3 separate regions of the Homo sapiens genome follow, and regions 2 and 3 are each linked to region 1. The links come from fine-mapping of genetic effects on gene expression. A gene starts in region 1. Each other region holds a variant in brackets. All regions are shown on one strand. Distances are between the middles of the regions. Region 1 holds the start of TPM1 (tropomyosin 1). Region 2 has its middle 28 kb from the start of TPM1-AS. Region 3 has its middle 40 kb from the start of TPM1.

Region 1 (10,814 bases):
GCATGCCTGTAATCCCAGCTACTCGGGAGGCTGAGGCAGGAGAATCGCTTGAACCCGGGAGGTGGAGGTTGCAGTGAGCGGAGATAGTGCCACTGCACTCCCGCCTAGGCAACAGAGCAAGACGCCGTCTCAAAAATAATAATAATAAAAATAACATAAAATAAATATGAAATCAAACTGAACCTAAAAACAGGCTGGGAATGAATGAATGAAAAGGGCATTGTTACTGAGAGTTCAGATATCTGCATTTTTGTTCCTGCACTGCCACCTCCCAGCTGAGTGGTCTTGAACCAGTTACTGCCCTTGGTGTGTGTGGTTTTGTTTTGGTTTAGGTTTTTTTTCTTTTCAAGACAGGATCTCATTCTGTCACCCAGGCTAGAGTACAGTGGCACACTCACTGCAACCTCAAACTCCTGGGTTCAAGCGATCCTCCTGCCTCAGGCTGCCGAGTAGCTGGGACCGCAGGTGTGAATTACCATGCCCCGCTAATTTTTAAAGTTTTTTGGAGAGATGGGGGGAAGCTCTACAAATTTGCCCAGGCTGGTTTTGACCTCCTGGCTTCAAGTGATCCTCCTGCTTTGGCCTCCCAAAGTGCTGGGATTACAAGCATGAGCCACTGTGCTCGGCCTGGTTTTCTCATGTACAGAGTGAAAATCAGAGAACTCATCCTGATGCTGTCATAAGAGGTTGGGAGGAGGAGGTAATGAACTTGAAAGTGCTTTATAAACTATACAAACATGAAGGAATATCGCCTTTCTTAAGACAGCTAAATCTGCCACACTTGGAGCTTGATTAAATCTACACTGAGTTGCTACTGTTGAGAGACAGACAATAAGAGGTAAGGCAGGAAAACTCCTATGCCTTTTTTTTTTTGTACTGGGACAATCATTTTGCCCATGCAAACATTCCAGGTAATAAGCGTGCTCAAGGGCCTCTCCAAAGAATCAGGACCAGCTGTGTGTTACTAAACAATAAAGGCAGGCACGCCTTGAAAATGGCCTAAAGACCTTTCTCAGAGATCCAAACCAGCCCCACCCCCCGCCCCCAGGAAGCATAGCATATTTTCTGTGAGGCCTTGATGGTAGCATCACAAACCCTTGGGAAACACAACTCCCAGTGTTTGAGGAGAGCATGCCGTATCTTGTTCCAGGGACACTGAGTCGTGAGCATAAAACGCTGCATTCCAAAAGAGACGAAGAAGCAGTCGTCTCTCCATTTAATTATAGATTCTTCACTTTCCCTTAATTGCTTCAGTCAGCACTGTTGACTCTGGGGGAGTCACAGTACACCGGCAGGGCTATTGCTGTTAAACAAGGGGTGACTATCAGGTAATGAGGTTTTCATTTTGTTTTTTCAAACAAACAAACCCTGATGTACATATTCAAGTGGGCATTCCTGTTAAAGGTGTCACATTGGGAAATGATGCTCATGTTGACTCTCCTTTGTAACCAAATATTGATAAATGTAGTATGACACATACAAGTGTTTTATGGAAGGAAAAAGGCAGCATATTTAATATTAAAGCTTTCCTAGAAAACCCGAGATATGTGATCCTCATAACTATAGAGGGCCCCAGGTGACCAACTGAGCTGATGGTCATGCCATGGGAAATACATATTAAATGACTCCCAAAGAGAGGGTTCTCCCTGCATCATACATAGACACTTTTCCTACAGAAAAAGATCCATGTCTTTTGTCTGCTTCCCTGGATCCCATAAGCCCTAAATGTCTTGCACACAAAAGGTGTCCAATAAATATTTGGAGACATTTGTCTTACCCTATCACAATACTTATATTCATTCTTCATGAAATAAGACACAGAGCCCATATTTTGAATGGAAACAAGATCTTTTGAACCTAGATTTGTTACTTTACCTTCCCAGACTTTCTTGTAAGTCAGTAAGAAAGCTGGACTTGTCAGTCATAAAAAAAATTGTTCAACAAACATTCATTGAGAAATGACTGAATACCAGGCACTGGAGAAATCTGGAAATTCCAAGCATGTTCGTGGTGATCACGTAGAGCCTCTAGGCCAAGAATGTTGAATGTTGTGCAGGCTGTCATGCCACCATGATTTGGTAAGCTTTTTACTTTCAAGGAATATAGACTCGCTTATGTAACCTCAAGAAATACAGGGGGTTATTATAAGGACCCCTGGAACTGAAATTTGGTCATATTCTCCCAATCTCTTTCTCTAAATGGTGCTTCTGTTTATCTTGATATGCCTGCTTCATTCTTTCTCTATAATCACTTCTCTGCTTTTTCATAACTTAGCTGATGCATGCCTATTGTGCTGTATTAGTCAGGAGAAGCTAGTTATGCTTCAGTAACAAACAACCCCCAATCTCAGTGGCCTAAAATAACAAAGATTTATATCTTATTCTCACTACATGTCCACCAAGGGTTAGTTGGGGGGAAAGAGGGAGCCACTTGAAAACCCACAATGACAGAGCAGCCACAGTCTTGAAAAATGAACATGGTTAGTCGTGAGCTCTTTAAGTATCCACCAGAAGTCATTTCTGCTCACGTTTCCTTGGCCAAAGCAAGTCAAATGGCCACAGCCAACTTAATTGGGTGGGATGTACAATGCTACCACGACATTGACTGGGGAGAAAACCTAAAAAATTGTGAATAACCTTAATCACTTTTACACGTGGCATTTCCAGCCCGACACTGCAATCCCTTTTTGTTTCAGCAGCCACGGCTAGTGATTCCCATTTTTCACGTTCCTTAATTCAAACTGCAATGAAAGAAGCTGAGTGGCCCAGTTCATCATTGCCTGACAAGCCACAACGCCAAGTCCCTGGTTAGTATTTAGATCCATCCTTGAGTTGTGGCCAATCAGCCAGAGAACAGGGATACACACTACATACAGCCTGTGACTGTCCAGCCTACCTCTGGAGAGGACCAGGAGACCTGTTCACTACAGAAGAATGTGTTATTTAAGTCATGACGTTTTGCTTGTCCTAGCTTTGTCTTAGCCCTTGGTGACAAAAAGGTCATGGGTGGTATAGCCCATGAAGCTGACTTGGGCCTGACACATGGCAGAATCTCAACATGGGTTAAAAGAAATGATTGAATTCAGGACCTGCTATGTTAACCCATCAGTCTAGAGATCAATGATGTGGTACTAAGGGATTTTAAAAGTTAGCGTTGTATAGCTCCATTTCCATACTTTGACACCATAGGCTTCGACCTCTGAATATAGGCCCTAGGTGAGGGAGTCTGGGAGAGGAAGAGGTGAAAAGAAGAGACATCGATGGCTTTAAACTACACAATAAGGTCTGAATGTCTGAATCTGGAATTCAAGGCCCTTTATCATACAGCCCCAAGCTTCCTTTCCAGTCTCATGCCCCCATTCACCCCCAAAATCCTACTGTCCAACCACCACCAAACATTCCTTTTTCTTTCCTTGGCGCATACAACGGCCCTCCTCTCTAGCTAACTGCTACCCTTCCTTTAAAATCAGTTTAAAAGCCATCACCTTTTCAGAGAATTTTTTCCCATCTGCTCTGACCTAGTCATTTCTATTTCTTCCTCGTGTGAATTCTTAACACCTTTCTCATGCCAAACACCTGGAGGACATAGACCTGTGCTACTCATTCTTTGGATTCCAGAGCCTAGTACCTGCCTAGTATATAGCAGGTACTCAACAACCGTGTGTTTAATAAATTGCTTGTAGCATGATTTCATTTAAGGAAACTTTAATGAGTCCCTCGGCTACATATGGCACAGTAAGAAAAGAAAAGTCAGTAACATGTGGTCCCGCAAGGAGTTTCTCTAGTTCAGTTGCCTCTTTTTATAAGTGAGAAAAAAGGCTTAGAGAGATTGTAACATGGCTAAGGTCACACTGCAAGGAAGTGACCAGGCCAGGTCTGGATCCCTGGAACTGACTCCTAACTCCCTATTCTTGCCTCCTCTGCTGAGCTCCAACCTGGGGAGTCAGCTCCCTGGAGTCCACGCATCTGGATATCGTCCACATGCCTGGAACTTTGTCACTGTTCCGGTGGCTGGGTTGACACACCGTGATTAAAGGGCTCTGGTCAATTTCTGTGCCACGCAGCCCCTATGCTAATGGTCAGATCTAATGTTCTGACCATTAGGTCAGTGTATCTTTTCCCTCCTGGGCAGTTAGGTTAGTGGAAGAAACCCGATAAAATCTTGGAGAGGAATTTGATCATTCTCTGAAGGACTTACAAGTTGTTTGGCCTGCCTAATCTGCTCAGATACCGTCCGGGGAATATTTGGTAACCATGCAGTACAGACTGTGAATTATTCTGTGGGGACTATTAACAAGACCCTCACCAACCCTGCCTCAGCTGATCTCAGGGCTTGGGGGCAGCCCCCTCTCCTCCCCTCCCACTGAAGCTCTGAAAAAAAGCAGCCTTTCCCCCTTGGGAGATGGGAGGAGTAGTTAAAAATAAGAAGTGTTGGGGGAAATCCTCCTCCTTCCAAGCACAGCTCACACGGCAGAGCCTCCTCAGAGTTGCGGCTGCGGATGCAATGACTTAGCCAGGTTAACGCCGATCCCATGTTTTCCGAAACCTGGCACCTAAGCATCTAACATGGAAGGCCGACTCCCTAAAATCAGTGCAAGAAAAATGATAACAAGTTATATCTGGAGGGACCTCGGGGATTATCTACCCGCTGGATTTAAAGTTGAGGAAGCCGCGGGCAGCAAACAAGGTCTCACAGTTGCTGGTGGCAGAGTAGAGACCACAGACCAAATTGCCTGAGTCTAAACTCAATGTTCTTTCCCCTTAGACTGCCACCCGCACACACACGCACACATGCACACCTTTTTGGAGGCACTGCACAGCAAGCACAGAAGTACGCCACTGAGTCCTGTGTCCCTAAAGTATTTGACTGTCCCTCCGCTGGGGGAAAGGGCAGGCAGAAAACAAGACTCCGTGTGCTGTCGCTGTGCCGCCCCCTGCCTCTCTGACCCGCGCCCGCAGAGAAAGTCTCAAGAGCCGCCCCAGGCTTTCTCCCACGTTCTCCCTTTCTCTGCTGCAGTTGAGTTTCCAGAGCGTGAGCGCGCAGGATGACACCTGGCTGGCTGAGAGCTGCCGGGGAGGCGCTGGCGGGTGCCGAGAGCGCACTGACCCTGACGCGGGGTGCAGCACGGCTGGGAAGCCCCCGGGCCTTTGGCTAAGCGCGCCGGGGGACGGCACAGGGGGGCGACGCGCATCCACCACCTGGTCCGCGCTCTCCCGGCCTCCGGCAGCTCAGGGCGGGCTCGGTTGGGGACCCTAATGGCTGGGTGCCGGCCCTGGGAGAAGGGCACGCGGAGGGCGGAGGGTTGCGCCTCGGCCCCGGCTCGGCCCCAACGCCCTCTCCCTGGCGCGCAGGTTTAGAAACAGGGCGGCCTCTCCGGCCGCCGCCTCGGCGGCTCGGGTCCCCATATATAGTCATATCCACCGTCAACTGGGAGGCCGGCGGCCGGCAGCGAATGGGCGAGCGGCCCCCGCGGGAGGAGCGGGGAGGGGGCACGGGGCGGAGGGAGGAGAGGAGGAAGGGGGGCAGGAGAAAAAAGCTTTTCCAAAAAAGTATTGGCTGTCTTGAGGAATGCGGTCGCCCCCTTGGGAAAGTACATATCTGGGAGAAGCAGGCGGCTCCGCGCTCGCACTCCCGCTCCTCCGCCCGACCGCGCGCTCGCCCCGCCGCTCCTGCTGCAGCCCCAGGGCCCCTCGCCGCCGCCACCATGGACGCCATCAAGAAGAAGATGCAGATGCTGAAGCTCGACAAGGAGAACGCCTTGGATCGAGCTGAGCAGGCGGAGGCCGACAAGAAGGCGGCGGAAGACAGGAGCAAGCAGGTCTGCGCCTCCCCGGCCCTGCGCCCGCGCCCAGAGCGCCGGGACTCGAGCCTGGCACCCCCGGCTGGATCCCCACCCCGAGGACTCGGGGAGCCACCACCCTACCCCCACCACCACCCAGGGCGGCCAGGGCGCGCGTCTGGAAAGAAGGAAGGGAAACGCAAGAGCCAGGCTTAGTCTAACTTAGTCTGGTCTGAGGACGCTTATTTCCCTTCTCTGGTTCCCATGGCCCGCGAAATCAAGTCCTAGAGGCGCTTTATTCTCAGGACTGGGAATCAGTTTGGGGGAGGGAGGAGGACACCCGGTTCCTGGGGACGTTTGAAGGAAGGGCGAGGGATGGAGAAAGGGGGTCGAGTAACTCAAGTGTTAGAAGTTCGTTGACTTTTGACTGGGGAGAAAGGAACCTTAAACTTGGGGAGGAGAAGGGAGTCCTGGAGTTGTTACCTAAGAACAAAGATGGGGCGGAATGGAGGCTACAGCCCGAAAGCCAGGCCAGCAGTGGCGTTCTTCTGTGTCCCCAAGTAGTGGACTTGAGCCCGCTGAGACCTCGGCAGGAGTCTCGTCCCAGGGCAGGTGGGTGTGCGGGGTGAGCCGCGGAGCGGTTCCAGCTCGGGTAAAGAGGAAGTTACCTCGGGTCCTTTGCACTCCAACTCGGCGGCGCCCCGAGCCCGAGGGGCCCCAGCCAACCCGACGCCCGTGTGTTGTGTGTGTCTAACACCCGGTCCGTGCCGGCCGCCCGCGCCCGCCCGCCGCTGCCCCCAGCTCGAGGAGGACATCGCGGCCAAGGAGAAGTTGCTGCGGGTGTCGGAGGACGAGCGGGACCGGGTGCTGGAGGAGCTGCACAAGGCGGAGGACAGCCTCCTGGCCGCCGAAGAGGCCGCCGCCAAGGTACCCGGGGCGCGCGGCACGGCGTGGCGCACGAATGGCTAACTCTTTCTCTTTCTCTCTCTCCCTCCCTGTCTTTCCCTCTGTCTCTCCCGCTGTCCCTGTCCTTCTGGTTCTGTGCACCCACACCCCTCCCCTTCGGGATCACGCTGCCTGCTGCACCCCCCTCCCTCCCTGTACCCCCTGGCCAACTCCCAGCTGGAAGATGAGCTGGTGTCACTGCAAAAGAAACTCAAGGGCACCGAAGATGAACTGGACAAATACTCTGAGGCTCTCAAAGATGCCCAGGAGAAGCTGGAGCTGGCAGAGAAAAAGGCCACCGATGTAAGTGCACGCTCACACTGCTTCCCTCACCTCTTGCCTGCGTGGCCACTCCGGGGTCACCACAGGGCTGGAGAGCAATGAAGGAAGTTTACCTTTTCCTGCTGGACACCTGCACACAGCCCTGCCATGGCCCAGAGCATTGGATGCCGCCTCTGACTGCTACTGCACACATTCATTTATATTTCATCCACTCCTCTCTTCTTCTCCTTTCCTTTACCTCCCTGGGGGTGGAGGTGGGTGGATGAGAGGCTGGGAGAATAGAGCAGCTGAAATTGGACTCTGGAGGTGAACTTCACCTCCCTGGTGGCAGAAAACCCTTGAGGTGTCATCACCAAGGTTTGTGTAGAGAATGCCAGGTTTTCTTCACTTTCTTTCCTTTTGCCGTTTCCAGTGGGTGGGAAGTTCTGGGTTTGGTGGTGGGTCTAGTCAGGGTTCAGAGAACCTGGCCTCTAAATGAAAGAAATGACACAGCGGTACCTTTACTTAGATGGCTGCACTTCATGGTGGGGCACAGAGACACTTTGAGGCTTCCTTTCTCATTAGTGTAAGCCTTAATCCACCCCTTAAGATCTGCCTGGGAAGATGATACTTGCTTGGGTCTGCAGTCTGAAGGCACTAGATCCAGAAAGTAAGCTGTGAGTTATATATAGCTCAGTGCTTTATATGGTATAGTGAGCTAGCTGCCCCCTGCCCCTCCTGCTGGCCCCGCCCCCACCTGTCAGCCTTCTGACAACCACCACATAGTTGCAGGGGTGATGCACACAGCTAAGGCTCTCCTAAGCTCTTTGTCCACTGCCCTTTGGAAGCTTTTTAATTGATAGCTTGCCTCTTCTGCCTCGGAAAGTCAAGCCAAAGGACCAACTTCTTTTCACACCGTTGGATTCCATTCTAAAAGCTAATTAAGCCTAGAGGCCCAATTAGAAAAGAATTCCTTGGGAAGTTGGTAACAATTCCAAGAATGTGTGAGCACCAGGGAAAGCTATGCCAGCAGTTGAAACACCGAGAGCAACAGCAGACTTTTTTATATGAAAGTAACATGCAAATAACTGAAGGGTCTCAGGTCTTGAAATTAGTGAAGTCTTTTGTAGCATGAAAGGCTTGAGATGTATATCCAGGTGTGCTTTGTAAATGAGAACTCCAGAGACGACATTTAGGATCTGACAAAAAGAAATTTTCAGTGAAAATCAAGCTTCCTGGAAAGGGGATTTGGGGGGAAGCACTGATTTCGCTAAAACATTTAAATTCTAAACTACCTGGCTTTGGAAAAAGAGCCAAAAACCATATATGACTCTGAGCCTACTTTGTATAATGCAGATCAGATGCCTGCTCTATATATGGCTAAATGGAAGATGCCTGCCTCCCGCAAATTCTCCAGCAGGACGTTTATTTAGCTTTTTCAAAAGAGCTGCTAATAGATCAAGGAAAGATATTCCTTATAAGGAAAAGAATGCAGAGAATTTGAAAATAGCCCAGTAAGACTGAAGGCAAAAGAGGGAGAAAAAGGTTACTACAATTCTTAAGGGAAAAAAATAGGATAATAATTATTGTAACTATGTAGTGCTAACATGTCTTTATTGAAAAGTCTTGTTGAAGGGAGCGCTGGAATGGGGTGGGGCAGAAATGGGAAAGAAGTTATTTAAAGTCAGCTGGTGTGGGAAGCAGCAGGGGAGGGAGCTTCTTGAATCTTGTTTTGGTTATTTTTCCCACCGGGAAACTGCCCCTAAATCTGGCATATATGGCTTTTTTGATAGTGTATTGATCACATTCCCTTTTAGGACACTTTAGGTTGTCTGGAGTTTGGAGCCCGTAGGAATATTGAAGAAGTTAGTGAAGAAATGCTATACAGTCATTTGTTGATTAATGAAGGGGGATAAGGTCTGAGACATGTGTCGTTAGGTGATTTATTCATTGTGCAAACACCATAGAGTGTATGGTACTTACACAAACCTAGAGGGTATAGCCTACTAAACACCTAGGCTACAAACTTGTACAGTGTGTTACTGTACTGAATACTGTCAACAATTGTAACACAAATCACCAGGCGATAGGAATTTTTTAGTTCTATTGTAATCTTATGAGGCTACTCTCATATATGCAGCCCCTCATTGACCAAAACATCATTATGCAGTGCATGACCATATTGAGAGTATTCGTTTTTTATTTACTAAAAAATAGTCAAAACTTGAGGAGGAAGAGACAGATGTCACTAGAAAAAGGGAGAAGTCCGGTAAGGGAGAAGTCAGCTTCCTGAGGTGGAATCGTATTACCTTTGGGATTAGGACATTTCATTGTCATTATTCACCAGTGTAAAACACTTTTACATTTTTCTACTATTATTACTAAAAACATTTTTCTACTACTTTACAAATCCTATTCTGGAAGTGGGCTCTACCTAGCTTAGAAGATTGTCATTCAGGAGTAGTATCCCTGATGGTCTTGTTTCGAATTTTGTGTTGTCTTTCCACCTAAGTCAAAAGTGAGGCTGAAGGGGATCGAAGACTCCATTTTTTTCTGGCCCCCAATCTCTTCCCCAGTAACTGTGATATATCTGATATTTATAGCATATGAGTCTTTATCCCTTTGTAGGTCTTTACTTCTTAACTTAGGGATTCTCAACCTTCTCTAAACATAATCACTTAGGGAGCTTTTAAAACCCAAAGTTAGGATGCACCCAAAGCCAGTTAAATCAGAATCCCTGGGGATGCAACCCAGGCGGCAGCATTTAAAAAATACCCAAGTGATTCCAACCTACAGACAAGGATGAGAAAACTCTCCTAAACTCTTGTATAATGACATCGGCATGAAAATGAACTCACCTGAAACTGACCTTCCCAGGACATTAAGTCACTAGTTGGCTGCTTATGGCACTTGCCAGTGTCCAGCAGTTTCCTGGCTGCTCCTGGAGGTTGCCAGACACCCGGTTCCCCCATTCTCAATGTTGGAGGCCCACAGTCTCTGCACTTAGGGGACCAGCTGTAACCTCCCCACCTGACCAGATGAACCGCGGGGAAACAAAGCGAGAAGCTCCCACCTACAGGATGCAAGGACCCAAGCTGGGATTTGTGAGAGTCTCAGCAGAGGCTGTGAGGAACTCCACAGAAAATGAGGCAGGAAAGCAAAAGTTCCTTGTTAGGGCTTGGAGGAGGAGAGGGTTGTCAAGCATGTTTTCTTTATTATTCCCACACATAAGGGAGCTGGCTTTAAGAGCTTTCTGTGACAAACCTGAGGAGAAAAAGCCCTGAGACTTAGAAGGCATTTAAGAATACAGCTCAAGGGGGAAATCGGTGGAGACTGTATCTGCGGTGGTTTTCTCCACCTGTAGCCAGAGGCTCTCTCATAGGGTTCTGTGGCTTTCCTTGGGGTGCCTTTTAAAGGCATCCCAGTCCAGCCCAGGACTGACTGGATTCCAGGAGATCTCAGAGGCTGGTCTGACACCAAAGAAGGCTGTAAAGAGAAGAGACCATTTGGATGACTGTTTTCATGGAAAGTGAGCCCCAGGGAGGCTGGCCTGAGATTACACAGCTGATTATGGGCCTCAGCCTGACTCTTAAAACAATGCTTGTGTATTTCTTAATCGTAGCTATCATTTGAGTTTTTAACTATGTACAAGGTATTGTGCTAAGCGCTTTACAGTCCTTCATAATTCTCATAGCAGCCCCATGGGGAAAGTACTATTATTATTCCCACTTTTACAGATGACGCCCAGAGAAGACAGGTAATGTGTCCGAAGTCACGCAGCAGGAAACTAGGAGCCAGAGTCAACCTAGGAAAACTGCATTTAGAACAG
Region 2 (10,814 bases), 35 kb after region 1:
GCTGTTGTCCCCCAGCGATATGATTTGACTCAAACTACTGCTTTAGCGAGTCTTTATGACTTTCTGCTTCCCAACTCATGAGTTCTCAATTCCAATACGTCTCCATTTTCTCAGACTTGGAAACTAAAAATGTCATCAGTCATTTCCCTAGCTCTTGAAGACTCTAAGCAAACAAAAATAGATTACAGACAATACTGGCTTCAGCTGTGCTGCAGGGAGAAAAAAGGATGTTCTCACCAAAAGCAAACAGAATGGAAACAAATGAAAACTCATTTGGATGCAGATATATTTTCATTCAAAAGTATTAAATATCTCTGTAACTGTACTTCCATGTCTCTTAATCAGGAATCTCTTCTCCACAGAAAGACAAAGGCTGTAAGGCAAAGAATCCAAGCAGGGTCCCGGAGCCTGGTTTTAGGTCTCCTTCCAAAAAGCTGTCCCCTTGCTCACGGCAAATAAATGCACAGGTCTCAACCTTCCTACAGTTTCAGGACCCCTCGCCTCACCTCTGCCAATCCTCAGCTAGGAAAAAACCCTCTCTGCATCACTCTAGTCATGGAAGCCTTTCCTAAACCTGGTCCTCTTTCACTCGGGGAGCCAGATCTGGCTTCAGATCCAGACTCCACCTTTATGAGACTGCCTAACCTGTCAAGTCCCTAAATCTGAGCTGCTCCATCTTTAACATGGAGATGAGATTAGCACCTAGCTCATAGTTTATAACTGTGGGAGTCTAATCTATAACCACTTCAAGTACACGGCACAGTACCAGGCGCCTAGGTCTTGTTCCATAAGTTAACCGCTCGGCCAGGCATGGTGGCTCACGCCTGTAATCCCACCACTTTGGGAGGCTAAGGCAGGTGGATCGCTTGAGGTCAGGAGTTTGAATGAGACCAGCGTGGCCAACACAGCAAAACCCCGTCTTTACTAAAGTTACAAAAATCAGCCAGGCATGGTGGTGTGCACTTATAATACCAGCTACTCAGGAGGCTGAGGCAGGAGAATCGCTTGAACCCGGGAGGTGGAGGTTGCGGTAAGCCAAGATCACACAACTGCACTCCAGCCTGGATGACAGAGTGAGGCTCCATCTCAAAAAAAAAGTTAACTGCTGTGGTCCTCAACTTGCCATTTGTGCTCCAAAGACCACCACAGAAGATAGTACCCATCCTTGTGAAGCTAAGGGGGGACTAACCTTACCCCAAATTATGATGGTTTTTAACACTTTCGGATCCCATTTATGTGTGCTAAAGAACTTGTACTCACAAGGGTTATTTCACTTAAGCCTCACGTCACTGAGGCTTAGATACTCAGTTCAGTAGCTCCCAAGTAGTGGGGTTGGGCTTCAAACTCTGGCCCTGTGTGACTCCTGAGCCCTGTCTGGAATCTCCTTCCCCTTGTTTCAAACGCTTTACAGCAGAAGAAAAACAGTTTCTAGATAATAGATGAAAACAGATGAAGCCGCAGGTATAATTAGGAGAGGAGGAGGCTGGGAAGATGGAGGTGGAGTCAACCATTTAGCAGCTGACACGACCGTGTGGGAGTGGTTTAACACCTGACTTCCCCTCTGGGTTCCAGGGATCAGACAAGATCAGTTAATTATGAAGCATCATGCCAATTCGAAGAATGATTACCTAATCTTTCAGATTAATATAAAAAAGGAGAACGGCTCTGTCTCTACATGGTACACGCCTGGGGTATGACTGGGTGTGATAACCTCTGAACATGCCACTCTGTGAGGTCAAGGTACAGAGATTAGGACTCTTGAATATGGAAAGGCCAAGGCTGGAAGCTGAGATGGTCACCATTTGGAGAACCATGAGGTGTAGAGAGAGAATTCAAGATTCATGTTCTAAATTCCATTGCTGAAACTTAGCAGTCCCAGATTTCAGAATGAACAGCTGAACAGTTGCCCTGTTCAGAGTAAAACATTGTGGAACTCCACAGAGAAAGGACACAGGTAAAAACATAAGCATCTTCAAAAAATAATGATGAGAGTTCTACAGTTTGTTTTGTTGTTGTTGTTGTTGCTTTTTTGGTTTTTTTTTGAGACAGAGTCTCACTCTGTTGCCCAGGCTGGAGTGCAGTGGCATGATCTCAGCTCACTGAAACCTCCACCTTCTGGGTTCAAGCAATTCTCATGCCCCAGCCTCCCGAGTAGCTGGGATTACAGGTGCATGCCACCACGCCTGGCTAATTTTTGTATAAAAATAGAGTAAGAAAGTACTCTAAAAAGTAGAGACGAGGTTTCACCATGTTGCCCAGGCTGATCTCGAGCTCCTGACCTCAAGTGATCTGCCCACCTCGGCCTCCCAAAGTGCTGGGATTACAGGCATGAGCCACTGTGCCGGCCTACAATCAGTTCTTAAGAGAAAAAAGAAAAGCGCTTTGTGGATACATTCAGAACTTTTTGAGACTGACATTGAAAAGAACAATTCCCCTCCTTATTGTTCCTAGAGATGTCGTTAACAGAAACAAAATCTAATTTTTGCATATGCTGGTTTGTGTCCTCCAGAGTTCAATACTTTGGGCCTGATTTTTCTCCAGGAAAAAAAAATTATATAGATATAGATATAGATATCTGTCTTACTCAAGTATTTGAATGTGTGTGAACCATTTTTTCAACTTGTCAACACTATTTGTAGCTGGTTTTTTTTTTAAATCTACAGTCAGATATATATACAGGGAGAAAAAAAATCCGAATTCTCCAATCAAAACAAAAAGCACTAGGGCGTTCAGGGAGCCATCATTTCCAGAATTGGAGACAAAGGTTTGGAAAGAAAATAGAAATGTTGGGCAGTACAAGAAGTGTTCCTTCCATTATATATACTTTTTGACATTGAGGGTTTTCAGAGCTACATTCCTCCAACAGATGTCATAAATTTTGTGTGTCAAACAATGAATGAAACTATGTTGAGAGTTCACTAATATGAATGTAACTTTTGCCAAATTTTTGACAAATGGGCATCAACCCTGAGGAAAAGGCTGCTTTCTGCTGCCTGTGAGAGTTTTCTTTCCATTTGTTACCAAAGCCATGGAGAACCAAGGGTCGAGTCAAGGCCATATCAGGACCTGCCAAGGCTGTTGCCCTAAACTGAAAACGCTGATTCAGAACTGGAAGGAGCCTTAAGATCATCGAGGACAGAGAAAAACGAGACCTAGAAAGATTTAGTGGTTTGCTCCGAGTCATCCAGCCCCCGTCAAGGCGGGCAGTGCAGCGTGGGGCCTGGAAACCAGAGGCACTGGTTTTGCATCCGCTCCCTGCTCACAGACCGGCCCAGGTTAATGTTGCCATCTGGGCGTTGATTTCTCCATCCCTGAAGGAGGTGGTTTCACTGCCCCTCTCCACGTGCCCACTCACTTCCTCAGGGCTGAGAACCGAATGGGGCAATGTGTGTAGAGTCCCTCTTCTGTTCCTTAGCCCCAATCCTTTTTTTTTTCACCTGCATTAGGTCCTTAGGGAAACTGAAAGTAACTTTTTCCTTTTGAAATGAAAATCCCCAGTACCACTGCCCGGGAGGATATTCACTGCAAGGCCATGGTACCCCACAAGTGGCCCGGAAAGAAAGCTCAAGTCACAGTTTCGAAGTTTGTTTTTGAGTTGTTAATCACCTGCGCACAGGAGGCAAAGAATGTTTCAAAGTAGTAGATTCAAATCTCACATGGAAGCTAAAGGCTGGCTCTGTTGTAAGTTTCTGTTACTCCATTCTCAAACTGCATTTGGATTTGTTGCTTCATGGAAGCCAACAGAACACTGCTCTTAGGCCTGGCATCGGATGTAAATGAAGGCAGTTCAGCCCTTATTTATTCTAGAGAAGCCACGAGGCAGATCCTGTGGAGCCGTGGAATCCACTGTCTCCAGAGGGAAGCTAATGACCGGGAAGGTGAAAGATGCTTTGTCTGTGGCAGGGAAGCAGTTGTTGTGTCTCCGGAGGGGCCGGCTGGGCACAGGGGGGCCGGAGGAGCAGAAGAGTTGGCTCCTCTTGGCGGATGCTGCATGGGGATGGGGTCAGAGGGGACAGCACACATCATGATGGTAAGTCCTGGTCTGTTTTCAACTCCAGAGACACTCAGAAAGGATTTGGAATGCTGCCTTTCCAGTGGGACTCTTGGTTAGACTCATGACTCCAGTGTTAAACTCCCAGATGCCTGCACTGGTATAATATAGCCCTTCGGCCTTCTGGTGAGCTGGGATTCGATGGGCTGCCCACATCCTGCACCTCCACTCCCCCACCTCACCCCAAAGTCCACTTCCTCTATGAAAACCACCCTTCACAATGAAACACTTGCCAAGGAACTGCTTGAATCGTGCTGTGGTCAAGGACGCCTTTATCTGAAGTGAGCCCCATCACTATTCCCAAAAGGATTAAGTATAGTTGCCCAAAGCCCAGTGATGTAAATATTAGAAATGGGAACCCACACCCAGGCAGTAGGGGCTTTTGTTTTTGAAGGGGATGCTGGCTTCCTAGGAATGGCCAAAGCATACCTGCATCTCAGAAGCCTGAGCCAGCGGGAAGTGATTAACCCCTGGGTTACTCAGCTCGAAGCCTGTCATTCCCATGATTTGTTTTCCTGCTATCTTCACACAAAGCACTCCTTTCCAGAACACTCCGGGACTGTCTGCCTAGCACCTTCCGGAGAAATTAAAAAGAGCAAAGGCAGAATAATTTGCCTAAGAATAGGAATGTCAAGAAAATGTGCCTCAACAAAGAGTTGCTAGGCTCAAATCCTGGCCAAACTGTTCATCTCTCTTCAGTTGTTAACCCTCTACTTGAAAACTTCCTATCCGCCATGCCTCCTTTTTCTGGCTTTCGTTCTTCCCTTCTGGCTACAATTTTTTGTTACTCTAATCTCTTGTTCTGCTCACTTTCTCTCAGACACAGAGCTTCCATATTGTCTTCTAGTAACTAAAATTATGAAAGTTAAGATTCATAATTTTGCCTACAAGACAAATTGTATTTCCATTTAAGAATGTTTTACAGTATTTTGGGGACTGTATTTTGGGCTCAGATGGGCCGGAGGAGTAGAAGAGTCAGCTCCTCTTGGCAGATGCTCTGTGGGGCTGGGGGCTGAGAAGCCAGCAAACATCATGATGGCAAATCCTGGTCTGTTTTCAAGGTTGGGGGTTATAGGACAATACAGACAAAGTATAATAGACGTCTTGCCCTCAAGGAGTCTATGGAAGCAACTGAATATGTGCACAAACGCACTAAAAAATAATAAAACAGGATATGATTACATGGCAAATAGACAGTAAATGATACAAGACTGCATGGAAACAGATGTCATGCCCCCTTCCTGGTAGATTTCTAACCA[T/C]CTAAAACCAGTAGAAAAGGCTCTCCTGGGCATGCTCTATAATTTTCTCAGGGGTACTCCAGCCACAGGCAAATCACCACTCACCCCGGCCTCTCAAATCTTAGAAACAAGAGCTCTGCTAGTTTAAAAATGCTTTGGTTTTACTACTTACTCTGGCTACGAAATTTTTTGTTCATAATTGTAGCTTTTTTCTACCAAATTCTCATTTTAAAATCCTCCCCTCTTACCCACCTCTCATTCCTTGCTGTAGGCCATGTAGTTGTGTTCTGTTTGTTTGTTTGTTTGTTTGTTTGTTTTTAAACTTTTGGTCTTACCATACCTTTGCTTTAATCCTAGAGCATCTGTTAAGCTTTAAAGGAAAGAGCATAAATGAATGCACACATATACTCTTAGAGCCTATAAAATCAGCTTCCTACTCCACCAGGGAGGTCTGAAGGAGCCTTTGGTTTCTGGTAAAGCAAATGGATGAGGATCGCCGCTAACATTCACTTCTCCCACGAGAAGCCTCCCCAGGCTGATTGCTATAGTCGCTAGTGCAGACAGCGACCTGATCTGCTCAGGCTGCCAGACTTCAGAAGCCTCAGCCAGGTTCAGAGCCTCCCTAATCCTAATGGGCTAGGAGCCCTGGGTGTCTCCAGATAACCCATTTTCCAGCCTTCCAAGAAAGAGGAGTAGTGGGGCAGTGGGCGAGAGAGAATTGGGTTTCAGTGCTGTTTTAATGTAAACTGCTGGGGGCTGGGAGCTCCCCTTTTGCTCTCCTTGTTTTGGTTCCTACCCCAGAAACATAAAGTATTACTGATAAACATGGATAATTAAATTTGGATAAAAACTACTTGAACCTGAAGAGTTCATTCCAATTTGTATAACAGCAATTGATGTGGGTTGTGTATTTAAAGGAATATTTAAATTTCATGCAGCAATTTGCAAGTTCAAATGAAAAGCTATTTGGCACATTTGGATACTGGGTTGCAAGGGAAATAAGCAAAATGTACACATGAGGTACATGCCATCATATAATTGTGTACATTTTTTATTTGTCACAAAGCATTATAAAAACAATAGAGAAAAACTATGAAGGAAAAAAAAGGTCACCACTGGGAAAAAAAAAAACTTATTTTCCATATGTTTTGCCTGTGTGTTTATGGAAGGCTTTTTATTCAAAATTTTGGTTTTTATTCAAAAAACTTTGCATAAACATCTTCCTGTGTTGCTTCACCTAGTCTTCTGGTTAATGTGCCATAATTTGTTCTCCTCTTTTTGATCACTGGGTTTTTCTAATTTTTTGTTCTCACAACTAGGACTGATGGGAGATTTTTTTGTAATACAGATATTTTCTGACATGTAAGAAATGAAAACATACACTTAAAAAAAACTATTTCATTTAAGCACAGACATACCCTAAATATAGTGTTAAGTTGTTTCTTAACTATGTGGTGATTCCTGCTCCGGCCTGGACTCCAGCCTGGAGAGCCCTTTTTTGATTTCCAGGCCTCAGGTTCTTAAAAGAGAAGCAAAACAACTTTTCCCAAACTGGTGTGGTAAAGCCTTTAAGAAATCTAGTTCCGGCCGGGTGCAGTGGCTCACGCCTGTAATCCCAGCACTTTGGGAGGCCAAGGCAGGTGGATCACCTGAGGTTGGCCTGTCGGCCTGACCAACATGGAGAAGCCCCTTCTCTACTAAAAATACAAAATTAGCCGGGCGTGGTGGCACATGCCTGTAATCCCAGCTAATCAGGAGGCTGAGTCAGGAGAATCGCTTGAACCTGGGAGGCAGAGGTTGCAGTGAGCCGAGATCGAGACACTGCACTCCAGCCTGGGCAACAAGAGCGAAACTCCACCTCAAAAAAAAAAAAAGAAGAAAGGAAAAGAAATCTAGTTCCACACGTTATCCCTTTCCCGCTCCCTCATCTGTGCTGCTCCCCCAACAAAAACACACAAACTTGAGCTTTAAGACATGCCTTCACCGCAGCCACCCGGCTCTTTCTTGTACCCCTTGTCTAGACCTGAGTTGATAAAAGTGAATGATGGGTGTGTGGGCTTAGAGGCACTGCCTCGGGCCTCAGTTCTGGGAAGACCCTTAATTACTGGATGATGAACAGTGACAGAAGAAGGAAGCAGCCATATAGAAAACTTAACTGCCCTGCTAAAGAGGCAGCCTAGATAGTATGTACAATCCCAGCCTTCGAAATTAGACCAGAATTTAACAGCCACCTCTGCCATGTACTGGTTGTGTGACTTAAAGTAAGCTGCTCAACTTCTCTGCAATTATTTCCCCATCTGCAAAATGGGGATAATAATAATAGTACCCAACATCATAACGTTCAGGGCATGAATAACTAAGATACTGCATGAAAAGTTTTAGTATGGTGCCTGGCATAGCAAACTCTCAGTGATAGACAACTTCTATTGCCCTGTTCTTTAAATAGTCTTAGATCCCGGCAATCAGCCCGTAGAAGTCACGCTCCCCAGGATTCAAAGACAAGGCCGCCCCTCACCTCTTCCCTACTCACCTATCAGGCTGCCTTAGTGTGCTGTCATTTTCTCCTTCAAGGCTGCCTCTGATGTTCATTTCACCAGGATGATTCATCGGGATGGGTCAGGGCCAGTGGCGAGTTAGCCTGATAGCCCAGCTGGATCTTCCCCTGAAATCTGATGGAAGCACACTTCACCGCCCGTCAGGACTAAAGTCCGGCATTGGTGAGCAGTAAGAACAGCCCCTCTCCAGTGTGGGAGGAGGGGCCTCGAGTAGACCCCAATGACTGACCCTCATCAGCTCTCCAGGAAGTGCCTGCCCAGTGGCATCCAGAAGAGGTGCCCAGGTCCTGTGTCTCCCCAGGGCACACTGGGGTTTGCCACTGGGGTTAGGTTTCCTGGGGACTTCTCAATGACACTGTGAAAACCTAGCTCACCTCCTTGGTGATCGTACTCTCAGCCACTAAAAGGTTTCCTAGGGCACTTAGAAGTTGAGTTCAGACAATAATAATATCCTGGTCGTCTGGTGAAATCGTTAGCATCTGAGGGGCTGCTTTGCAGTACCCTCTGTTGGGCTTGCGGCTCCTGCCTTTGTATGTTTAACCTTTAAACAAGGGGGTTGGCAGAAGGAAGCAAGCTGTTCTGTCACAGCTGGTCCTGGCGATGCCAGAGGAGGCCCAAGCTGGAGCTTCCTAGTTAGCTTTGGCTTTTGCCTAAAGAGGATTTCAGGAATAGGGCAGGACACAGGGACCCAGCCAACACCAGGAATAAAAGCCAAGCGTCTACTCCATGCTTTTGGTTCTGGCTGGCCAGGGCATCTGACACCAGGGAACATCTTTCCTTTCACACTCCATTGTCCTGGGGCTTCAATTACATTCTTGACTGAGAGCCCAGGAATGAGGATAGCGGGCACTCCAGAAATTAACCTTAGAGAAGTGACTACGTGAGTTTTTAGCCTACTCGCCTCCCTAACAATGGTGCACACCATTGCTGCTCCAGGTGGAGGAGTCACTGCCACCTCCACTAGCTGAGCAAACATCCCTTGGCCTCAGATCTGGGATTAAAAGGAATCAGGAGGTCAGCTCCCCACTCATTAGAGCTGGATTATCCTACGAGGGTTTGTACTGCGTGCATAGACAAAAGCATAGCACCCAAAAGAATGAGACACAGCGACGGAATTTTGTTATTTTATATTTCAAAAAAAGGCATTGGCTAAGTATAGTGGCTCATGCCTGTAATCCCAGCACTTAGGGAGGCCGAGGCAGGAGGATCACTTGAGCCAAGGAGTTTAACATCAGCCTGGGCAACATGGCAAAACCCCATCTCTACAAAAAAAATATAAAAAATTAGCTGGGTGTGGTGGCACACGCCTGTGGTCCCAGCTACTTTGGAGGCTGAAATGAGCCTAGGATCAATTGAACCTAGGAAGTCGAGGCTGCGGTGAGCCGTGATCACACCGCTGCACTCCAACCTGGGCGGGCAACAGAGCGAGACCCTGTCTCAAAAAAGAAAAGGCATTGACAAAGTCATTATTGGAAAAATCTGAATGTATGTAGTCTTATTTCCATTTGTTTCATAGTTTAGTGATGTTTTATCTTGAGTTACAAATCCCTTTGGTGCAAAGGATGATGTCTTATGCTAGCTGCACATCTCGTCGGTCTTATAGCTCACCACCACAGAGAGGTGAGCCCTCCACAAGCCCCTGGTCTGTGTCCTTGACTCTCCCAAGGCCACCACCCCACCTTTCCCCACACTCAGAGCCATCAGCATCACCACCACCATTGATCGTATGAAGACATGCAGACCACTTTTATACTGCATGTGCTTTGTTGCAGGTACTTTTGTGAATCTGCAACACTGAGAAAAACCCAAGTTCAATCCTTAGTTCTTCCCAGTTAACAACTGGGGGATTTGAAGCAAGTTACTCAGCCTTTCTGAATTGCAGTTTACTCAGCCTCTCTGAATGTCAGTTTCCTCCTCTGTAAGAGCCTGCGCCTTATAGTTGTGTTAAAGAACAAAAGCTATCCCAGATACTTGGAAGGCCGACATGGGAGGAGTGCTTGAGGCCAGGAGTTCAAGACCAGCCTGGGCCATAAGCAAGACCCTGTCTCTACAAAAAAAAAAAAAAAAAAAAAAAGTTGTTTTAATTAGCCAGGTGTGGTTGTACATCCCTGTAGTCCTAGCTACTTGGAGCCTGAGGTGGAAAGATCACTTGAGCCCAGGAGTTGGAGACTACAATGAGCTATGATCTCGCCACTGCATTCCAGCCTGGGTGACAGTTGCTCTGATCCCCAGAGCAACTCTCTAAAAAAAAAAAAAAAGAAAAAGAAAGAAAGAAAAAAGGCCAGGTGTGATGACTCACATCTATAATCCCAGCACAGGGAGATCGAGGCAGGAAGATCACTGAACCCAGGAGTTGAAGACAAGCCTGGGCAACGTAGTGAGACCTCATCTCTACAAAAATAAATAAATAACCAGGCATGGTGGCATGTACCTGTAGTGCCAGCTACTTGGGAAGCTGAGGCGGGAGGATTGCCTGAGCCCAGGAGGTCAAGGGTGCAGTGAGCCACGATTGCACCACTGCATTCCAGCCTGGGTGATGGAATGAGACCCTGTCTCTATTTAAATAAGTAAATAAACAAACAAATAAATAAAAAAGAATAAAAGGTAAAACATGTCTGAGGCCTGCTACAAGGCAGATTACCTATAAATATTAGAGTTATTCATGCCCTTTCTTCACTCCTGATCCGCCTAAAAAGAAGATAGAGTAGGTCCCTTCTCTAGGGAAAAGGAACCACAACCACCACCATCTCAGCTTGAGGGACTTGTAGCGAAGCTTTACCCTATGAACCAACCTCGGGAGTCTCCGGCCTCCATTGCCCCACACCTTGGAAGGGGAGGGGCTTCTCTGGAGAGAGGTTTGTTTAAATGTCATTATTTTCTGAAATCATTGCCCAATTTTTCCTATTTTACAGTCAGCCATCCACTATGCATCAGGTGAGTGCGTCTGAGAAGCCTATAGCTGAGGAGTCC
Region 3 (10,814 bases), 40 kb before region 1:
CTTTGACAGAAAGCTTCTCTCCATGGAGAAGCTTGGTGTCCAGCAGGAAGGTCGTGGGAAAAGATATTAGCAATGCAACATGGAAAACGTGAACTAGTGGCATGCAGAAAGGGCCAAGGGAGGCCGGGCACAGTGGCTCACACCTATAATCCTAGCACTTTGGGAGGCCGAGGTGGGTGGATCATTTGAGCCCAGGAGTTTGAGCCCAGACTGGGCAACATAGCAAGACCTCATCTTTACAAAAAATTTAAAAATTAGCCTGGTGTGCTGGCAAGTGCCTATGGTCCCAGCTACACAGGAGGCTGAGGTGGGAGGGTTGCTTTAGCTCGGGAGGTCAAGACTACAGTGAACTGTGATTGCACCACTGCACTCCAGACTGGACGACAGAGCAAGGTTGTATCTCCAAAAAAAAAGGCCAAGGGAGCCCCAAGGAAGGAGGACCTCTTCTGGGGAGGGAGAGGATTATAGTCTTACAAAGCTTCTCTAAGGTGTTATGCCAGGTCTTGAAGGATAAAAAGGAGCAATCAGACTGCTACAGAAAGCAAAGGCACCCTAATAAAAAATCAGTCAAAGACACCAAGGTGTAAAAGGGCACAAGTGTGGCTGGAATGCAAAGGGCTGGGCATGGGGCTGGAAAGGTGGGTGGGTCTGGCACCTGAATATCCCTGAGTTCCAGCCCAGGAGTCTGGGCTTTCCCCTGCAGCTGATGGAAACCACTGAAGAATTTGGTGAACACAGCTTCTATTAACAAGAGAAGAGCAAAAGAGGGCAGGAGTTGTGGGAAATAGACCAGGACAAATGGAGCGTGAGTTACCAGCGGGGCCTCCACATACAGAGGTCCAGGAGGTGGATATAAATAAAAGCCTGAGGCCAGAGAGAGGTCCAAGCTAGAGGCGAAGATTATGGAATCTTATCATGAAGGTGAGAGTTGACGCTGGGGCAGAAAAGGGACCACCCCCACCCCCAGGAGGGCACACAGAGATGAGAAGGCCATAGAATGGCATCTGCCACCAACAAGGTCATTCCCTTCCATGGAAAATCCAGCCCCTTGCTAGTCCAGGAGGACTAGCAAGGAGGCATTACCCCCTGTAATTTAGCCTTCTGCAAGGACCTGCTTTACCCACTATCAAATTCTGGCCCAGTTCTGCCTGAGACCAAATTACACCCAGTGTCATCTACTGGACAAGTCTCTACGGTGAAGGAAGTATGGCATCATGGTTGCTTTGTAACTTCCCAAACGTGTCTTCAGAGCTCTGAAACAATGAGCAGGGACCTATTTCCGGCCCTAAATCTCTATAAAGGAAAGGGCCATTACCTCTAGAGCATGCTGGGCAGGTGGGGGCAGGGTGCTAGCAAATGTCCCCTTCCCCTCACCCAAGATTTCTACACCTACCTGCAATCATGCTTTAAACTCCCCTCAACAAAGTCACATTTTTACAACCATACAGAAGTTCAAAGGGCTGTTACCCTGGGCTGGTTAAGTCAACAGGTATTTACTGGTGCTGCAACTCCACACTCTTTAAATATCTCTCTGGCTTTCCACCTGTCACCTCTATTTTGATGACTGCCACATCTGCCTGATGAGCAAGCCTCTTAGCTGTTTCAGGTATTTCCAATTGCCAGCAGGACATTTACGATGGAGAGATATAGTAGATCTTTATTGTAACAGCGAAAGTTCTGGTGTCTGAGTGTCTGCGTTTGGAATCCTGTTCCACCTCTTACTAGCTATGACCTTAACTATTCTTCGCCTCATGTTCTTTATCTGTAAACTGATAATATGAAAGTGCAACCTCATGGGGCTGTGATGAAAGAAAAATACTCATGCCTAAATCTCTACAGCAGTGCCTGGCACACAGTAAGCATGCGATGAAAACGAGCTGTAATTATTACCTCCAGTCAGAAGTTCTACTCCCACCTCAGACTCTTATGTCCAAAACAGAGAGTTGGGCCATTAATTCTGGTCCTGTTCCTCTACTAAGAAGCTCTGGGTGGCACTTACTTAACAGACCAGAAAATGAGGCCCACGGTGACAACATGACGTGCTCAAAGTCACAGAGCAAGCTAAGGAGAAAGCTGGGGTCAGGATTCCTCATCCAGGGCCCTTCTGTCACTTCCTATTGTTACTGGGAAGTGTGGAGTCTTCGGTTTTTAGTCCTTCTGGAGGAAAGAATTTGGCTAAGAGACCAATTAGTAAAGTAAGCAAAAGGAAATAAGAGTAAACTCCAAGAGAGGACTGGGCTCTTCCGGCTGGGAGCAGCCCTGATACTTTTGTATTGCAGTTTTTATTATGCCAGACTGTTTCTTTAAGCTCCTGCCTCCATCTTAACACTCCACCTTTTTCTTTGTTTAGTTTTCTGCTTTTGTTTTAAGTCTCCACTTTTGCTCCCTCCTAGTTTTCACCTAGGTTTGTGGAATTTCCCTCACTGTCATTGATACACTTGTGCAGGGCCAGGTAATCAATACGAACCTTACCTAATGGTGGCCTTGCTCATGTACCGCCACCACAGAAGGGTCACAGGGGGGTTACAACTGTACTTACTGTGCCTGTGGATTTCTTAGGAATATTTTCTTTGCCCTTTTTACCTTTCTATTAATACATAGCTAGCTACATTTTGACAGGTTAACTACAAAATTACAAGACGTCTTAAGGAGCGTTTGGGGGCACTTTTTCTGCATTGGCATTTTCCCTCCTCTCTGTTTATATTTAACATACATGTTTTAAGTAGTCTCTGGAACATAACATTTTCCAAAACTTCCTCCCCAGGGGCTCTCTTTTTTGTTTATGTCTAACTATTCATCTACTCTAACAGTATGTGCCCCCTCGCACCAGCCCAGCCACCCAACAGGAGGCTGCCGGCACCTGCAGAGAGTCCCTGAAGAACAAGTTAGACTTGGTACCAAAATCACCCCAGCCACTTATTGGAAATGTAGATTCCTGGCATCCTCCTATTAGATTCTGACTCAGTAAGTCTAGGGTGGGGCCCCAGATCCACATTTTAACAGGCACAACCAACCCTGTACCCCCACCAACTGGCTTGGATTCAGATGGTACCCACTTTGAAAAGTGCCTCTCAAGGGCGAGTTGACGCATGTGCCTCCACTAGAGATGAAATCCTGAACAGGGCCCAGTGAGGCCCTCTGGCCAGCCCGGGCTGCACGCCTCGCAGACACGCTTGCGGGTGCAGTTACTGGGCATGGCTGCAGTCCCTGAATGGAATTTCAGAAATTTGGTCACATTCTTTCATACTCTCATCCTAGAAAGGAACACCGCCCTTTCAGACAAAGATGCACCTGTACCCCTGCAAAATCAGCAGGACATCCAACCCCAGGATTACCATTCCACTGGACATTGTTTACTGCAATGGGAATTCATCGGGAGCTTGTGGGATTGTGGGTAATCTTATTCATAGCACCTGCCTCCTCTGTGGGTGACCTCATCAAAGGCTCCCGAAGCTTGTTCCCTCTCCCATCCATCCTGCGACTGACACTGAATATTAATACAGCTTCAGAAGCTTCTGTCCTTGCTCTCCTATAGCCAGTGACCATGTGGCCCTATGTTCCTCCCCCTCTCTAATCTGGGCCGTCAGACCCTTTCCAGAGGGAGACAATCAAAGCAGATTGGAAGCTGTTTGAAGAAAGAACAAATAGCTGAAAATCAATTTGCAGAGATAGTAGCAAGAATTACAGTTCTTTTTGTCTGCTTATTAACGGGCTCCAGCTAAGTATCAAATGGGAGAAGAGAATGCATTCCCAACACAGTAAGTGGCTGATTTGGAGATGTTATTAAAAAGAGTTGACAGAATTCATTCAGATTATGACCAATTTAATTTTGGAGGGCTTTAAGGGTTCTGTTTACTTCTCAGCTCATGGCTCTCTTGTGCCCAGAACTTGTACCCCAGGCCTGTGTTCATTCATTTCCATTTCTGAATTATCACAAGGACACGGAGATAACAAGGTCTGGTGACCAGAATATGGCTGTGGGAACTAAGAAATACTGTGATAACTGTCCTACAGCAATCTGGGGTTGGCCTTTGCATCAGCAGTGTGGCTGGCAGCAGGAAACGCATACTGTGAAATCACAGAGAACAAGTTTCATCCCCAGATCTGCTGGTCACTGGCTGTAGGGCCTTGGACAGGTCACTTAAACTATCTGAATCTCGAAGTTCTTATCTGTAAAATGGGCATTCTAACATTGAATTTACAGGGTTATTGTGCTGATCAAAGGGCATAGTTAGCAAATGTCCTTTATTCCAAATGTTGACCAAGATATACAATAAATAGCTGTTATTATTTCTTTTCTCTATTTTCTTCTTGGTAGCACAGAGATAGGAAGTGATTGAGAACTCAATCACTTCTCAACAACAGAAAAGGAATCACTTTCAATATAGTAGAAGGGGAAATGAAATAAAACCTATTCGACTAATCCAGTAGAAGTCAATAAAGCAGGAAAATAAAAAGAGAAGGAAATATAAAACATGTATTTAGAAAACAAAAAGTGGTAGAAGTCGGTCAAATATCAATAATCACAAGAATTATAACAGATTAAACTCATCTGTTAAAGGATAAATTTTCAGATTAGATTTAATTTTTTCATTCATTCATTCAACAAATAATTATTAAGCACCTACTATGCATACTAGGCAGTGGTCTAGGCACTGCAATCCAGCTAAAAGCTATTCTAAAAGACACATTTAAAACCAAAAACAGGAAAGGATCAAAACCAAAAGATTAAGAAAAAATATTCCAGGTAATACTAACTAAAAGAAGTTGATCTTGACAATATTAATTTGAAACAAAATAAGCCTTAAGACAAAAACTTGGCAATAAAAAGGTCTTGATAAAGAACAATTCACCAAAAAAAAAAATATAGTTAACCTGAACCTGTGTAACCTTACAACACAACTTCGAAATATATAAAGCAAAAACCGACAAAAAGATATTATTGACAATGAATAATCAAAGTGGTAGATTTTAATCACTTCTCTCAGAAAGCATTGAATCAGACCAAAAAATTGTGAAGGATACAGCAGAGTCGAACCACAGTTATTTATGAAAACTTGCACCTCAAAAATAAAGAATAAACAGCTATTCAAGTACATACTTACAAGAACTAACCATGTACCCTAGGCCACAAAGAAAATACCAAAAGGCATCAAAGAATTGATATTATACAGATCATATTCACAAACCTCAGTGCAATAAAATTATAACGTCAGTAACCAAAACATTTCCACACAACCCATGTGTTAAGAAAATTTCTGAATGCCCCTCTAAATAATTAATGGGTAAAAGGAAGAATAATCATGGAAATTATAAACTATAACTTAATAACAATAGAATATTATATAGCAAAATAGTAAAGAGTAACATAAATATGGTTACTGTCCCACAGACAACTCCACAGCACAGGGACATCCCAAGACTAAGATACCAGATGGGAACCCTTAAAACTAGGGCAAGTGAACAGAAGAGTTTTAGAAGGGCTGAACAAGACTATCTCTCAAATAGCATTTTTTTTTTTTTTGAAACGGAGTTTTTCTCTTGTTGCCCAGGCTGGAGAGCAATGGCGTGGGCTTGGCTCACCGCAACCTCCACCTCCTGGGTTCAAGCTATATCCTAGTCATCTTCATCTGTGTAGAACCACATACGGTAGGCATTCAGCAAGTCTTTGTGGAGACACCTTTGGGGTCTGCACCCCAATGCTACTTCTTTAACTGGCTGGAGCATTTCAAACCGTGGTCTGCCTGCTATGGCTAGAGGGAAGATACTTACCCTGGTTTTTAGGGGTGTTCCAAAAAAGCTCCCACCATTGCTGGGCCAGAGAGAGCCAGAAAGCCACATTCCTGCCACATCATGCCCCCATCCAAAACACCGCCACAGTGCAATGACACCCCACTGGGGACCACTTTAAATCAGAGCCCAAGATTTATTTATTTATTTATTTATTTATTTATTTATTTATTTATTTATTTTTGAGACAGAGTCTCACTCTGTCACCCAGGCTGGAGTGCAATGGTACGATCTCGGCTCACTGCAACCTCTGCCTACCGCATTCAAGCACTTCTCCTGCCTCGGCCTCCCAAGTAGTTGGAACTACGGGCCCCCACCACCATGCCTGGCTAATTTTTGGATTTTTTAGTACAGACGGGGTTTCACCATGTTGGCCAGGCTGGTCTTGAACTCCTGACCTCAGGCGATCCACCCACCTTGGCCTCCCAAAGTGCTGGGATTACAGGCATGAGCGCAGGATTTTTAATAGATGTCATTTTCCAGTCTGCCCCCTGGAAGTCTGGAAATGTAGAGGTTTGGCCTGAATCCTGTCTGGAAATTGGTGTTCACCTGCTTTTGCAGAAAGGAGTAAGATTTCACTCTGGGCAAGGAAAAACCTCATTAAAGGCTCATTTATCTTCCTGGGGAGCCGTTTGCCTGAAACGAACTGAATCTTAAAATGCAAATTCTTTCTCAGGGAATGAGCGTGGCAACTGAAGCTGCAATACCTGTCAGAATGATTTGAGAGCAATTCTTTTACTATTACTATCATCATTATCATTATTATCATTATTTCAACCCAGCCATTAGGTTAATACTATTAAGTCAGCATTTTCAGCAAATTGTTAGTGGCGTGAA[A/AGT]GTGTGTGTGTGTGTGTGTGTGTGTGTGTGTGTGTGTGTGTAGGGATTACAGCTGTCATCATTTCTATCCTGTTGTAAGGTTTAATAATTTAACCACAGGTATGTGCTCCAGGCTGAAAGCCGATGAGTGAGAAGGAAGCAGGGAGGAAGGGGGGTGCCCAACCATACATTGTCCCATTAATATGAAGGTAATCAGCATGACTGTTGGATGAAGTAGAGCACGGTCCATGAGGACGCAATAGAGCACATGTGTACACATCAGCATCTCAGCACTTTCCATGGACCCTGGCCCTCTCTGTGGCTAGGCATTGGTGGCAGTCCCAAGAAGCCTAAGATGAAATTGACTTTAAAAAGTGGAAGCAGCAATGTGATTTGTATCCCCCGGGAAGTATGGCTTGATTTATTACTACATCCCCAATTACCCAGTGCTTGACAGAACTGGTCAAGCAGGGGAGGGGGCCAATAGTGTTAGTTCCCTTCCATGGAGATTCATGGCAGCGTCACTGAAAGTGTGGGAGTGTTGGAGTCAGCTGAACCTGAGTGTGAATCCCCGCTGTGTGACTGCACAGGTGACTTAACCTCTCTGGGTCTGTTTCCTTATCCACAAAATGGGGGCTGGAACCCTTTCTCCTAGGATGATTATGAGTGTTAAATTAGAAAAATTCAAGGACTAGCTCACCGTATGCACATGCATTATAGGCACTCAGTCAACAGCTACTCTGCTGCTAGGCTGTTCTGTTCCAGGCTTGTTTCCTAGCTCCGGCAGGGCCCAACTCAGTGCCTACCTCAGGGCTCCAGCTAGGGCCTTCCAAAACCTCCATGGCCAAATGAACTGTCCTGAAGACATCCAGGAGGAGGCACCCCACCCCTGGGGAATCTCTTCACTCTCTTTCCCTGGCTCTGGGCAGTAATCTGAGATGTCAGGCTGGGTGTTTCTTTTAGAGGACAATGTGTCTTCAAGTACTGCCAGGGCAGTGATGAGCAGGTTGTGCATGGGACCCTGGGGGACTGTATTTGGGTCTCCCTTTCCTAGAGACCCCCTGTCAATCTTCAGTGTTCCTCAGGAGGCACTCACCTCACATCACACCCCACTAAACACACACACACACATCAATAACAAGAGCATCAACTTCTTTTTTGGAAACTTTGGCTCCAACTAAATGAATCAGGGCCATCATCACAATATCCCTGTCCAGAAAATGAACATAAAGATACATGAATAACCTTGTCAATGGTTTAATTCCTCCACCCTGAAATTTACTATTTAAAACTTGGAGATAATAAAGACGTAGAAATTACAGGGGGAAAATGATCTACGAACAACCTTTGGCTAACATTTAGCAATATCTCTTGCAAGTCTCTCCTTTATGCATATTTCATTTTATATAATAATGATCAACTTAGATGTTTGATATTCATTTATGTGTCCTGCTTCTCTCACCTAATTTTATAGAGTGAGCATCATTTTAATAGTTGCATGTTATTCTCTAAGAAAGGATACGCCATGATTTATGCAACCACCTCCCAATCATTGGAATCTCAGATTGCTGCCAAAACATTTGCTATTGTAAATGGCATTATGAAACAAATCAAGCCTTTTCTACTTTGAGTTCCTTGTTGGTTGGTTGGTTGGTTGGTTTTATTTGTTTGTTTGGGGGTTTTTTTGAGACAGGGTCTCACTCTGTCATCCAGACTGGAGTGCGGTGGCACTATCATGGCTCACTGCAGTCTTGACCTCTTGGGCTCAGGTGATCCTTCCACCTCAACCTCCCCAGTAGCTAGGACTACAGGTGCTTGCCACCACACTTGGCTAATATTTTGTATTTTTAGTAGAGACGGGGTTTCATCATGTTGCACAGGCTAGTCTCAAACTCCTGGGCTCAAATGATCCACCTGCCTCGGCCTCCTGAAGTGCTGGGATTACAGGCATGAGCCATCGCACCCAGCCTGCTTTGAGGGTTATTATCTCAGGAATTATTCCCCGGAATAATAAGTATAAGGTTACCTGTTATAAGGCCCCTAATATGTATCACCGACCTAATTTCCTAAAGAGTTATATCAATGTATATACCCCTAAACATTTGCTCATGATCTTCAAAGATATCCACTCTCACCAAATAAATAAATAAATAAATAAACTCAACATCCTTAGAAAATGTCTCAAGTAGATGGCAGAACATTAAGCCATCACTTCCCAAAATGTGGGTCCCTCCCATGCCACTGTAGTATAGGAGATATTAGAGCACGAGTAAACTTTTTTTTTTTACTTTAAGTTCTGGGATACATGTGCAAAACGTGCAGGTTTGTTACATAGGTATACATGTGCCATGGGGGTCTGCTGCACCCATCAACCCGTCATCTAGGTTTTAAGCCCTGCATGCATTAGGTATTTGTCCTAATACTCTCCCTCCCCTTACTCCCCACCCACTGACAGGCCCTGGGGTGTGATGTTTCTCTCCCTGTGCCTGTGTGTTCTCATTGTTCAACTCCCACTTATGAGTGAGAACAGAGCATAAATAAACTTTTAGTATATATTAGAAAAACTATGAAACACTCAAAATCCGTGTTTCTTTAAATATTATCAGGCCTTGGCTAAAGTGTGGGTTTAAGGGTTTTTTTTGTAGGTGTGTTGAGTTCAAACTGTACGCTACTATGATAAAAGCTGTAAACATAGAGCAGGAAACTGCCCTGGTCTGTCAGGCAAAGCACAGTCCTGCCCTTAGAAAGAACAGGGCAAGGCAAGGAAAACTGAGTGAAAAACACTGGCTTACATGCACACACACACACACATACACACACACACACACACACACACATACACGCACAGCCACATGCTAATGCACAGCCCTTCAGGGTTGAGGGTGAGGTGAGGGCAGCGTTCTATGCTATTATCAGGCATTGTTGCCTTAGTGAGAATGAGGTGTCTAAGGGAGCAGAGAGGCCAGAGCATGCCTTAGGGTATTAGACTCCGCCATGGGGGATTAGGGCATGGGAGAAAGGCAAAGACAAGAACAGGCAATTCAGAGGGAAATTGTGTAAACTACTTTTTCCAGTTTCACAATTTTGCCTTGAAAGTCAAGTATGGTCGAAGAAAAGCCAGGCCTGTTTCTCTGTTGTTCAAACGTCCAGGCATGTGGCAAGAGCTTGAGCTTTGGCTCAGCTAGACCTGTGCTCACGTCCTGGTTCTGCCACTCTGCAGCTGTGTGAGCCTCAGTTTCATCACCTTTGGTGGGGATGGTAATAATACTTATTTCATAGCACCACTGGAAGAGAAAGGATTCAGTGCCTAGCACACAGACAGGCTCCCACAGATCCCAGTAGTAGGAGTCAGGGGGAGGGGAGGGGAGAGCTGTAGTAATGTCGAGTGGTAACACTGAGGGAGGGAAAAGAGAGGGGGCATGATATAGTGTGGGGTAGTGTAATGTTGCCCTACCCAATCTCTTTCAAAGTAGTCCAGCAAAGAGAGAGGCCCGACTAGGGAATGCCACATACCCATCAACTTCCAAGAGCCAGTGCGACTGGTAAGAACTATCGAGAACCCAGAATCCAACTGTACTGGGTTGCATAGTGTCCCCCCAAACTCATGTCCACCCTGAACCTCAGAATGTAACCTAATTCAGAAATAGACTCTTTGCAAACGTAATTAGTTAAGGACTGAGATGAGATCCCACCAAATTTGAGTGGGCCCTAAGTCCGATGGCTGGTGTCCTTATAAGAAGAGGAGTGAACTCATGGAGACACACAGAGGGAGGAAGGCCACAGGAAGATGGAAGCAGACATTGGAGTTATGCTATTATAAGCCAGGGAATGCCACGAGCCACTGGAACCCATAAAAGGCAAGGAAAGATTCTTCCCTAGAAGCTGTGGAGAGCATGGCCCTGCTGACACCTTGATGTCTGACTTCCGGCCTCCAGAACCGGGAGAGAATAAGTTCCTGTCGTTCTAAGCCACTCAGTTTGTAGTAATTTGTTACAGCGGCCACAGGCAATTAACAGACCAACCATCTCAATTCACAGAGAAAGAAAGCAAGTCCTAAAGACGACAGTCGCCGTCGACCCACAGAAAGCTATCAGCCAAACAGGGGCTAGAACCCAGTTTCTCGGCCCTCATTCGGGGCTCTTCTCCCACTTTACAGAATCCTCCAAGTCTGTGACATCGAATAGGACTTCACATCTAGATTAGAGCCA

The links. PIP is the estimated chance that this variant, and not a neighbour inherited with it, causes the effect.
Region 2: its variant is the best candidate, but not a certain one, in a credible set for the expression of TPM1 in whole blood (INTERVAL, PIP 0.73).
Region 3: its variant is the best candidate, but not a certain one, in a credible set for the expression of TPM1 in whole blood (INTERVAL, PIP 0.58).

The regions. Positions count from the first base shown.
Region 1 is chr15:63,037,126-63,047,939 of GRCh38, forward strand. TPM1 (tropomyosin 1) reads left to right here and starts at 5,622. Exons shown (of 10, transcript NM_001018005.2): 1 at 5,622-5,818; 2 at 6,902-7,027. The coding sequence starts at 5,705. It overlaps TPM1-AS (TPM1 antisense RNA), which reads right to left. Exons shown (of 2, transcript NR_147233.2): 2 at 8,909-10,814. RefSeq lists enhancers at 4,566-5,480, 6,394-7,307, 10,759-10,814.
Region 2 is chr15:63,072,279-63,083,092 of GRCh38, forward strand. No RefSeq gene overlaps it. Among named protein-coding and RNA genes, the nearest start is that of TPM1-AS, 28 kb to the left of the region's middle. RefSeq lists enhancers at 6,472-7,149, 7,150-7,825. The variant T/C (reference allele first, on the strand shown) is at 5,311.
Region 3 is chr15:62,996,913-63,007,726 of GRCh38, forward strand. No RefSeq gene overlaps it. Among named protein-coding and RNA genes, the nearest start is that of TPM1, 40 kb to the right of the region's middle. The variant A/AGT (reference allele first, on the strand shown) is at 6,628.